Homo sapiens: one gene and its partner. The protein of the gene in region 2 interacts with the protein of the main gene of each other region in a pairwise test. Each region holds a gene or a part of one and is shown on either strand. Other genes may lie near its edges.

What was found. Proteins that work in one complex are often made in the same cells at the same time.
Region 1: the proteins of SDCBP2 (region 2) and DMC1 interact in binary tests that used the Homo sapiens proteins (3 or more experiments, as listed by UniProt).

The regions. Positions count from the first base shown.
Region 1 is NC_000022.11:38,535,684-38,540,155, forward strand, and holds part of DMC1 (meiotic recombination protein DMC1/LIM15 homolog), read right to left. Parts: intron 3,730-4,472; coding exon 3,638-3,729; intron 2,930-3,637; coding exon 2,856-2,929; intron 2,727-2,855; coding exon 2,612-2,726; intron 1,970-2,611; coding exon 1,909-1,969; intron 1-1,908. UniProt on the Homo sapiens protein: Participates in meiotic recombination, specifically in homologous strand assimilation, which is required for the resolution of meiotic double-strand breaks.
Region 2 is NC_000020.11:1,318,245-1,323,689, forward strand, and holds part of SDCBP2 (syntenin-2), read right to left. Parts: intron 2,957-5,445; exon of another isoform or gene 2,192-2,956; 5' UTR 2,173-2,191; coding exon 2,119-2,172; intron 1,416-2,118; coding exon 1,346-1,415; intron 175-1,345; coding exon 74-174; intron 1-73.

The sequences.
Region 1 (4,472 bases), on a different chromosome or scaffold from region 2:
TTCAACCTCTGCCTCCCAGGTTCAAGTGATCCTCCTGTCTTAGCCTCCCAAGAAGCTAGGACTACAGGTGCACACCACCATGCCTGGCTAGTTTTTTTATTTTTAGTAAAGACAGGGTTTTGCCATGTTGTCCAGGCTGGTCTTGAACTCCTGACCTCAGGTGATCCTCCCACCTCGGCCTCCCAAAGTGCTGAGATTACAGTGAGCCACTGCCCACTGCACCCAGCCTTTAAAAGATTTTTTTAAAAGCTTTTTGGCTAGGCAAGGGGGCTCACACATGTAATCCTAGCACTTTGGGATGCTGAGGTGGGAGGATCGCTTGAGGCCAGGAGTTCGAGACCAGCCTGGCCAACATGGCAAAACCCTGTCTCTTCTAAAAATAAAAAAATTAGCCAGGCGTGGCGATGTGTGCCTCCCAGCTGCTCGGGAGGCTGAGGCTGGAGCATCACCTGAGCCTGAGAGGCAGAGGTTGCAGTGAGCAGAGATGGTGCCACTGCATTGCAGCTTGGGTGACAGAGTGAAACCTTGTCTCTTAAAAAAAAAAAACACACACACACTTTAAAAAAGCATTATCATGAATTTAGATTTGTTTTGCTTTGTTTGAGACAGTCTTGCTCTGTCTCCCAGGCTGGAGTGCAGTGGTGTGTATTTAGGATTATTTTGATTGCTTATTCAGACACATAATGCTCAAAATTTGTTACGGTGGCAACAAACCTTTGTTTGATTTATCTATTTTTATTATCCTACTTTAGCTCTCTGTGTGTTTCTATTCACTGCCGTCTTTCAGAGTCATCAATAGTTATGTGCACAAACACTTCAACAAATTCTGAATATGCCTAGTGTGAACTGAAATTCTTTTTCTTCAAACAGGAGACTTCTCCCATAGTGCCTCTGATAAATATATCTCATGTATATCCTGTAGAAAGATGACTTTTTTGTTTTTATGAATGGTGTTTATTATACTGATAAGCTGCAATATAAGTTTTTATTTCCCTAGGATCTATTTCTTATTGTCCTCCCATACCCCTTTAGCCCTAGACCAAAGAGAAGCCCAAAGTACTGCTGAAAATGGTTAAAGTATTGCTTTATTCTATAAAGAACTAGAGAAAAATAGATTCTGGTTACCAAGTGATATTTACAATTATGAAGTCATATACACTGTGCAATAAAGTGATTTTTTTTTTGAGATGCAGTTTTGCTCTTGTTGCACAAGCTGGAGTGCAATGGCATGATCTTGGCTCACTGCAACCTCCGCCTCCCAGGTTCAAGTGATTCTCCCACCTCAGCCTCCCGAATAGCTGGGATTACAGGTGCACGCCACCACGCCCAGCTAATTTTTTGTATTTTTAGTAGAGACGAGGCTTCATCATGTTGGCCAGGCTGGTCTTGAACTCCTGACCTCAGGTGATCCAACCATCTAGGCCTCCCAAAGTGTTGGGATTACAGGCATGAGCCACTGCGCCCAGTAATAAAGTGATTTGTGATATATTTGTGCCCACATAAAGACTAATGATTTTTAAATTCTTTTCTTTTTTCTTTTTTCTTTTTGAGATAGAATCTTGCTCTGTTTCCCAGACAGGAGTACAATGGCGCGATCTCGGCTTACTACAACCTCCACCTCCCAGGTTCAAGTGATTCTTCTGCCTCAGCCTCCGGAGTAGCTGAGATTACAGGTGTGCGCCACCACACCCGGCTAATCTCTGTATTTTTAGTAGAGACGGGGTTTCACTATGTTAGTCAGGCTGGTCTCCATCTCCTGACCTCGTGATCCGCCTGCCTCAGCCTGCTAAAGTGCTGGAATTACAGGCGTGAGCCACCGTGCCCGGCCTTGAAATTATTTTCTATTCTACGCTCTAACCCTCTTTATATTAACCTCTGTGAAATAAAAAGTAGAATATTGGGGCTTACGTCATAGTTGCTCCTGGATCGGCAGTCATTTGATTGGTCACAAAAACAGCCACGTTATATTCTGCATCAAGAGATAAAATTTTAAAACTATGAGAAAGGCAATATAGATATTTAAAAGTTCATTGTTTAGATTTCAGAGTTTAGACATATTGCATCATGAATTTATTTTATAAATAACATCATATTCCTATTTTTCATTGACAACAGAAATTATTTGTTATTATTATTATTAAGGTTAGAATAAATATTTTTGGTTTAAAAAGAGTTGTAAAGCCGGGCTCAGCGGCTCATGCCTGTAATCCCAGCACTTTGGGAGGCTGAGGCGGACAGATCACGAGGTCAGGAGCTCGAGACCAGCCTGGCCAACATGGTGAAACCCCGTCTCTACTAAATATACAAAAAATTGGCCTGGTGTGATGGCAGGTGCCTGTAATTCCAGCTACTCAGGAGGCTAAGGAGGAAGAATTGCTTGAACCTGGGAGGCGGAGGTTGCAGTGAGCCGAGATCGCACCACTGCACTCCAGCCTGGGCAACAGAGCGAGATACCATCTCAAAAAACAAAAAAAAAACAAAGAGTTGTATTCTCATAAAGGTAATTTTATTTAAAAAAAAATCGCTGCCTCCTGACATTATATTCCAAGCTTCTCTGCAAAGTATACTTGACAAACATAGTCACAGATGCCATTTTATTTTAAAGATATACCTTCTGAGATTTTTTGGAGTCGTGACAACATCTGGGCCAATTTTTGCTGCCGTTCGGCCAACTCCCCACGGCCACTGAAATCCACTCGAAAAAGTGCCATTATTGAATCGATAATCTACACAGGATTAATGTAAAAATAAACATGCATTTGGAAATTGAAGGAAGACGTTATTTGAATAGAGATCAATAGAAGAAAAATATTATGCTAAATAGCTCTGTGAAAGCAATATTTAAAAGCTTGTACCAATAGCTTGAAGATGCCAGCTTCTTCATGGAACTTTGCTGCTACATAATCAAGTAGCTCCATCTGATGTTCACCTGATGGGAAATGCAGTGAGAAAATGTTATAAAAGTTGAAAGAAGCAGAGGCTAAGATCATTCATATTCTTGGGAGCCAGGCAAAATAAATTCCTTGAAGGATTTTCTTAATTATTGATGACTTTATTAAATATTATTGCAGCAGGGCATGGTGGCTCATGCCTATAATCCCAACACTTTGGGAGGCCGAGGCAGGTGGATCACTTGGGGTCAGGAGTTCAAGACCAGCCTTGCCAACATGGTGAAACCCTGACTCTACTAAAAAATACAAAAATTAGCTGGGTGTGGTGGCGTGTGCCTGTAATCCCAGCGACTTGGGAGGCTGAGGTAGGAGAATCACTTGAAGCCAGGAGTTGGAGGTTGCAGTGAGCCGAGATCATACCACTGCACTCCAGCCTGAGTGACAGAGCGAGACTCCATCTCAAAAAAAAAAAAAAATTATTGCATATTCTGCCTTAGCATGTATACCAAATGCTACATTATCCAAAAAGAATGTTACTCTTAATTTCAAAGACAAAGAATAATAAATAATTTGAGGGCACTTTATTATCTAAGGACTTACCAGATGATAAAATTTATAGACTGAGTAAATTAATTTAGAGAAAAATAAAATAGAAAAAAAGTATCAAAATGTTGTATCCCTCAAGTAGTAAATCAGTGCTGCCAACCTTACATTGACCCAAGCATCCAACTGCATGGGGCTCTTACTAGTATATGCACGTGCATAAAGTACGTTGTCCAGTACTGCATCATGGTCTACATTAAAGCGATCAGCAATGTCCCTAAGGCGATCTGGACGGCTGGAGTATGCCAAGATTAAGGATCCAATAAGTCAATTCTAAAAAAGTTTAGACAACCACTACAAAACATAATATCTTCCGTAAATTAACAGAGAAGCCAAACAATGTACCTGTGAAGGTATTCTAGAGGATGCTAGCAACCATTTAAAGTCTATACAAGATTTGTTTATTCATAAGTGCCTCAACTTACCATAGGTAGTGATAATGGTCATAGAAATGTGAGGCAGTAATGACTTTAACTATTAAATTATCAAAACTTTACAATAACCTTGGAAGCTAGTTTTTATGGCCTGTTTTACATTTTACAACGTAAGACACTGGCAAACAGAGATTAGGCAAATGACTTGAGCTTATGCAGCAAATCAGTTACAAGAGAAAAACTAGGAACTAAGCTTTGTGAGTCCTTTTGTTCTCAGATCTATAAAAATAGACCTGTAATAGATAATATCACTGAATTATAATTCAATAACTGCAAAGTGAATTAATTCACTCTCTTCATACCCCTCATTCCTCAATATGAAATAGTTTATTATATTATTAATCACATGTTGTTAAATGATAAATTTGACTACATGAACCAAAGGGTCAAAAAGGTAACTTCAAGGGCCCAGAAGAGAAATATCGACCAAAGGTTTTTTGTTGGCATAGGTTTTCTTTTTCTTTTCAAATCTTACCTGGAAAGTATATACAGTTTAAAATCTACTTTCTTCTAAAGGAGTTGTTAGCTTTTTTTTTGTTTTCTC
Region 2 (5,445 bases):
GAAATGGCAAGACCAGGAAAAAGGGAGGATTGGGAGGTTCTGCGCCCGCAGCAGGCAGAAGCCAAATACATACACTGTCACCCTCTGGAATCTGAAGCAGGCTCTCCTGGACTTCTTGGCTGGAGAGGGAAAGACCCATATAATTTTCCAGTTCTGCCAAGTTTGGGTACAAAACTGATAGGGAAAGAAGGAAGAATAAATGTGTCATTAGAGGACATGTGCTTCCCTATGCCTGCCTGGCTCCCCTGTGGCTGCTCATTTTTATTAAGAAATGGAGCCTGGGAATGGTATTTATTTCCAAGACTGTGGGGTATCCCCAGGAACACTCACTGATGAGCGCTCCTCAGAGGGCCCAGGTGCAGGGTAGGACACCGAGTCCTCATGCACCACTTTGCTATTCAACTCCACTGACTTTATTTGACACCCAGAAACCTCTGCATCCCTCAGCGAATGGTTCCCACCAGGACTGGCAGGGTCCTAATCCCTTCTTATAAGGATTTGTGTCCTTATAAGAAGAGACAACAGAGGGCTCATGCATGCGCTCTCATGCTGTATCTCTCTCGTGTTCTCGTTTTCTCTCTCTCTTTTAAGCAAGTACACTGAGGAAAGGCCATGTAAGGACTCAGCCAGAGGGTGGCCATCTGCAAGCCAGGAAGGGAGGCCTCACCAGAAACTGAATTGGCCAGAACCTTGATCTTGGGCTTCCAGCCTCCAGAGCTGTGGGAATATACATTTCTGCTGTTGAAGTCATCCAGCCTATGGTATTTTGTTATGGAAGCCTAAGCTGAATAAGGCAAGTGGGGTTCTGGCCCCTTCTCTCTTTGAGCCGCTATCTGCCGTCCACTTCTTCCCCACCTGCCCCCACCCCAGGCCAGCCATAGTTCCAGCAAGGAAGTCTGACAAGTGTGGTATTTCATTCCCGGGGTCACATGAGATTGGATCACCAGAATGGTGCTGAAATGCTGATTTGAGGTGACTCAAATCGTTTATATAGACAGAGGCCCCACAAATGATATCACATCCTCAAGGCAGCCTTGCTGGGGGCATCAGAGAAGCCATAGCTTCCCTAACTTGAGCTGGGTTTGGAAGGATAAACAGGGGTTCACCAGGCAGTCAAGGAGGGAGGGGAACAGCATGGGCACAGGCTCTGGGAGGTGAGGTGACTCAGCCCAGGTCACCCAGGCAGTAAGAGGTGGGTGGCAACTGGAAGCCTGGTCCTCTCTTCCCACCATGTTGAGTCCTTAACCCTGGAGCCTCCCATACCTTTGGCATTGCCAAGCTTCCCTGATGATCTCTTCCCTGAAAGGACTTGGCACCCAGGAGCCCCTCATCCCAGCCCACTCACCTGGTGGTGGGGAAATGGCTGTTGCCTGGACTGGCAGGGCTGGCATCTTGGGTGAGGCTCTGACCTGGGCCTGGGGAGGAGCAGGGAGCACTGGTCAGCTGTGGCCAGGACCCCAGGAACCCCAGAGCCTGGAGCTCCATGAGGCCAGGGTCTGGGCATTAGGGGTGTGAGTGGGCCCGGGGTGTGGGGGGAGTGTGCACCAACCCTCAGGGCTCAAGATCACGTAAACGTGGCCTCCGCAGATGTGTCTTTTCCTGGGAGGAAGTTCTGGGGGACTGTGACCCACCCTATGTCACAACCCATTTACTGCCTGCAACAGGCAGAACATCAAGGCCCATCTCCCAATCAAGTTCTCAGCTGAAAAGTCTCCATTTCTCAAAACCCACTGGAACCACAGAGTGCTGGGATGGAGGAGGAAGGGGGCTTCTGGGGGCTAAGCAGACCAATGCCTATGCCCACTAGTCTTGTTTCCTCTGAAAGCCTGCCTTAGAGCATGGAGCCCGCCCATCCTGGAGGGAGGGAGAGCTGGGCCTGGGCAGGACAGAGCAGGCATGAGAGAGGCATGCGTGCGCTGCTTGGTCTTTTCTATTCTTGCTGTAACGCCATTGGCATTGCCCCCTGGATGTCTTCTCTGCCCAGCAGGCCCTGCAGTGGACACCTACATGCCCTGAGGCCTACGGGAATCTCCAAGTGGCCCCAGTACCCAGCACCTTCCAGGGTAATCCCCAAGGTCCCCTTCAGGGAATCCAGGCCAATGGGGCCTGGCGACTTACCTGAATGGCTTGGTCCACTTTTAGGTCCTCTAGAGATGGGTACAGGGATGACATGGCTGATTCTCAGAACACCCTGCAGAGTGCAGAGGGTGGGGAAGGATAAGGATGCAGCTGATGCCCCCTTGAAAGGAGGCACAGACATCCGCAACAGCAAGCGGGTTGGAACTTAATATTCAAACAGAAAGGCAGCAGGGCACTTAGAATGCCTCCCCGAACTCCACCCCTAATCCCCTGTCGATATTTGAACTCTACTGTATTCCACTCATCTCCAGCCTCACTGTCAACTTTTAATCTTGGCCACAATGAAGTAAGACCAGTAGGAAATTTATAAAGACTCTCACACAAACTGTAGCAGAACTTAGACACTCAACAGGGCACTGCTCCAGAGGGAGGAGGGAATGGGGGGTGGAGAGGCACCATGAGCACTTATTTACTAAACACCTTCTCATTGTCCCAGGGAGAATCAGCAGGACCTCTGAGCAAGGTGCCCCGAGAAAGTGAAAGGAATGATGACCTCTTAAGAAATGTTTTATTCCCTTCCTGACGAAATGTGGGGAAGGAGCAGTCTGCCTTTCTGGGTTCCTTCCCTTTACTCACTAACCACTGGCTCTGTCACACCTCCAGGCTTCGCTGAGGCAGTCCACTCCAACTGGAGCCCCTGCCCAACCTCCTTGTCACCCTCGGTTCCTGTGGGACACGCCTCCCCTGGCTCCCAGGCAATACGGTCACTGCCCCTCCCACCCAGGACCCTGCCCTCCGGGACAGCTCCGGGACAGCACCGGGCCAGCCTCTTGCTTGAACTCGCCACTTGTCCTGACTGCAGTTCTGAGGGGTAAAGGTGTGTCCTATTCACCCCACTGAACTCACATGTGATGGGTACACATGATAAAGGAATGCCCGCTGGTGGCACAGGAAACTGAGGGTCCTGTGCCTGAGCGATGTGACTCCAGGCTTCCCAGGATCAGATCCGCTGGGCACCTCCCTGAGTGACCACAGGCACGCCGAGGACATACTCATCCATCACTGCTCCTTCTCCTCCCTCTGCACCTGCTGCCTTGACCCCTGTGTCATCCTTGGCCCCGCCCCCACTATCCCTTCTTGTCTGTCATCAAATCCCATCTCTCCCACATCCCGTGTTGTGCAGGTCCCCATCATCTCCCTGGCCCTCTCCAGGTGCCATAACACCCTCCAAACACACTGCTGCCTCCCCTCCTGCCGTCCTGCTGCTCTCCAGACAGCAGCCACCAGGCCCTTTGTGTACACACTTGGGATGTCATGCCCTGGCTGAAAGCCCGCCAGTGGCTTCCCTGCCTTGGGAATGTACTCTCCTTAAAGAGGCTCACAGGGCCTTCACGATTCCACCAGAGATTGGAACTGGTGGGCCCAGGGCCAGATGGAAATAGATTTTATTTGACCTTGTGGAGTACTGTAAACGTTCAGATTAGCAGCTTAAACACAAAGCTCAAGGTACTGGATTTAATAATCGAATTTCCCACTGCTCCCAAAAAACAGGAAGCTTTGGCAACCCTAGGCTATAGCAGAGTAGCTACAATTGAGTAGCAGCAGACTCCAGGGTGACCCAGTCCACCATCCTCTATTGGCTGTTACACCCAGACCATTGTACTCACTGGTGCCAAGTCCCAATAGATATTTGTTTGCAACCCTAGTCTACCTCTCCAGCTTCATTTCTTGCCTTACGTCCTTTCAGCTGCTACTTTCAACTCCAGCCACAATGAGCTACTTCCACGTCCTTGCATGTGATTCCCTCCTGTCTCTTTTGCATGTGTTATTCCTTCTATCTGGAATACCCCTCCTCTCCCTGCTCCTTGCTTGGCCAACTCCTAATAATTTTCAAGTCTCAGATCAGGGAGCTCCTCTTACAGGAAGCCTGCTTTGATTTGTGCTCCCCCTAGCCCCTGCTCCATGTCCTACTCCTGTTGAGTATTCACCACTCTTGTGGTTGCCTCTTTACTTGTCTGTCTACCTCCTTAGGAGTTCCAAGATGGCAGGAACAGGGGCTTCTCATTTGCTGTGAAGCCTCTAACCCCTAGCATGGAGGCTAGCTCAATAATATTGCCAGAAGCAACACATTCTACCTGGGCTTCCACTTTTCTCCTTGTAAAGTAAAGCTCTAGTATCCTAAGAACACCCACCTTCCTGGATGAAACAAGGACCAGAAGTCCCAAATGTGCCTCTCACAGTCCTGTTTTATTATTATTATTATTTTGAGACAGAGTCTCACTCTGTTGCCAAAGCTGGAGTACAGTGGCGCGATCTTGGCTCACTGCAATCTCCAACTCCTGGGCTGAAGCCATCCTCCCACCTCAGCTTCCCAAGTAGCTGGGACATAGGTGCATGCCGCCACACCTGGTTAATTTTTGTATTTTTTGTAGAGACAGGGTTTCAGCATGTTGCCCAGGCTGGTCTTGAACTCCTGGGCTCAAGCAATTTGCCCGCTTCGGTCCCCCAAAGTGTTGGGATTACAGGCCTGAGCCACTATGCCCAGCCTTTTGTTTTTAAAATCTGAATTAGTGCCAATATTTAAAAATCTGGAAACACAAAATGCGTCACTTCTTACTTGGATTGAAAAAAATATAAACATTTGGCAAGGCAAGAGCTGGAATAGTGCATGGCAACACTCACCCGGCTGAGTCACAGCCTACCTCGCAAATGGGGCTGTACGTGCTTTCCTGTTTCCGCAAGTACCCATCAGCCCTTCACTGATTTACGTTGCCTGCTTGGTTCCTGGAGGCAGCCAGTTCCAGACCCTGCCCTAGCCTGGCCTTTGGGGTAGAAATGACCATCCCAACAGGACAGGAATTTCCTGGGAGGGGAGGGAGTCTGGCTCTGACTTCCTTTAGACCACCTGGGGGAAGAGACCCCTTTGCTTATAGCCTTCCCCACTGTGTACACACACTATGAGATTTTTAATCTTGGGACAGTCCTGAGCAGCTATCATCTGCCAAAACATGACCTGCCACCAGGACCACGCATGAACAGCAGATGCGAAAATAAGCAGCCACTCCTGCCCTGATTTTCCTAACATTTAACCAGTAGAGCACTTATATTTTTGTCAGCTGTCCCCTGGGAGAGCAGGGAGTCAGAGATCCATTTCCTGGAAATCACTCCCGGGCCAGATCACATAACCCTTTTTCTGTGTCTGAGATCCTTTCACCACTGCCACCTTCTCTGGATCCCATCTTAGTGCTGGGATGCGGGGAAGTGAGAAAACAGGTACAGTCGTTCCTTGGGGTAGGTTCCAGGACAATGCCCCTCACTCCCCATCCCTCGGATACCAACATCCACAGCTGCTTATGTCCCTTACAT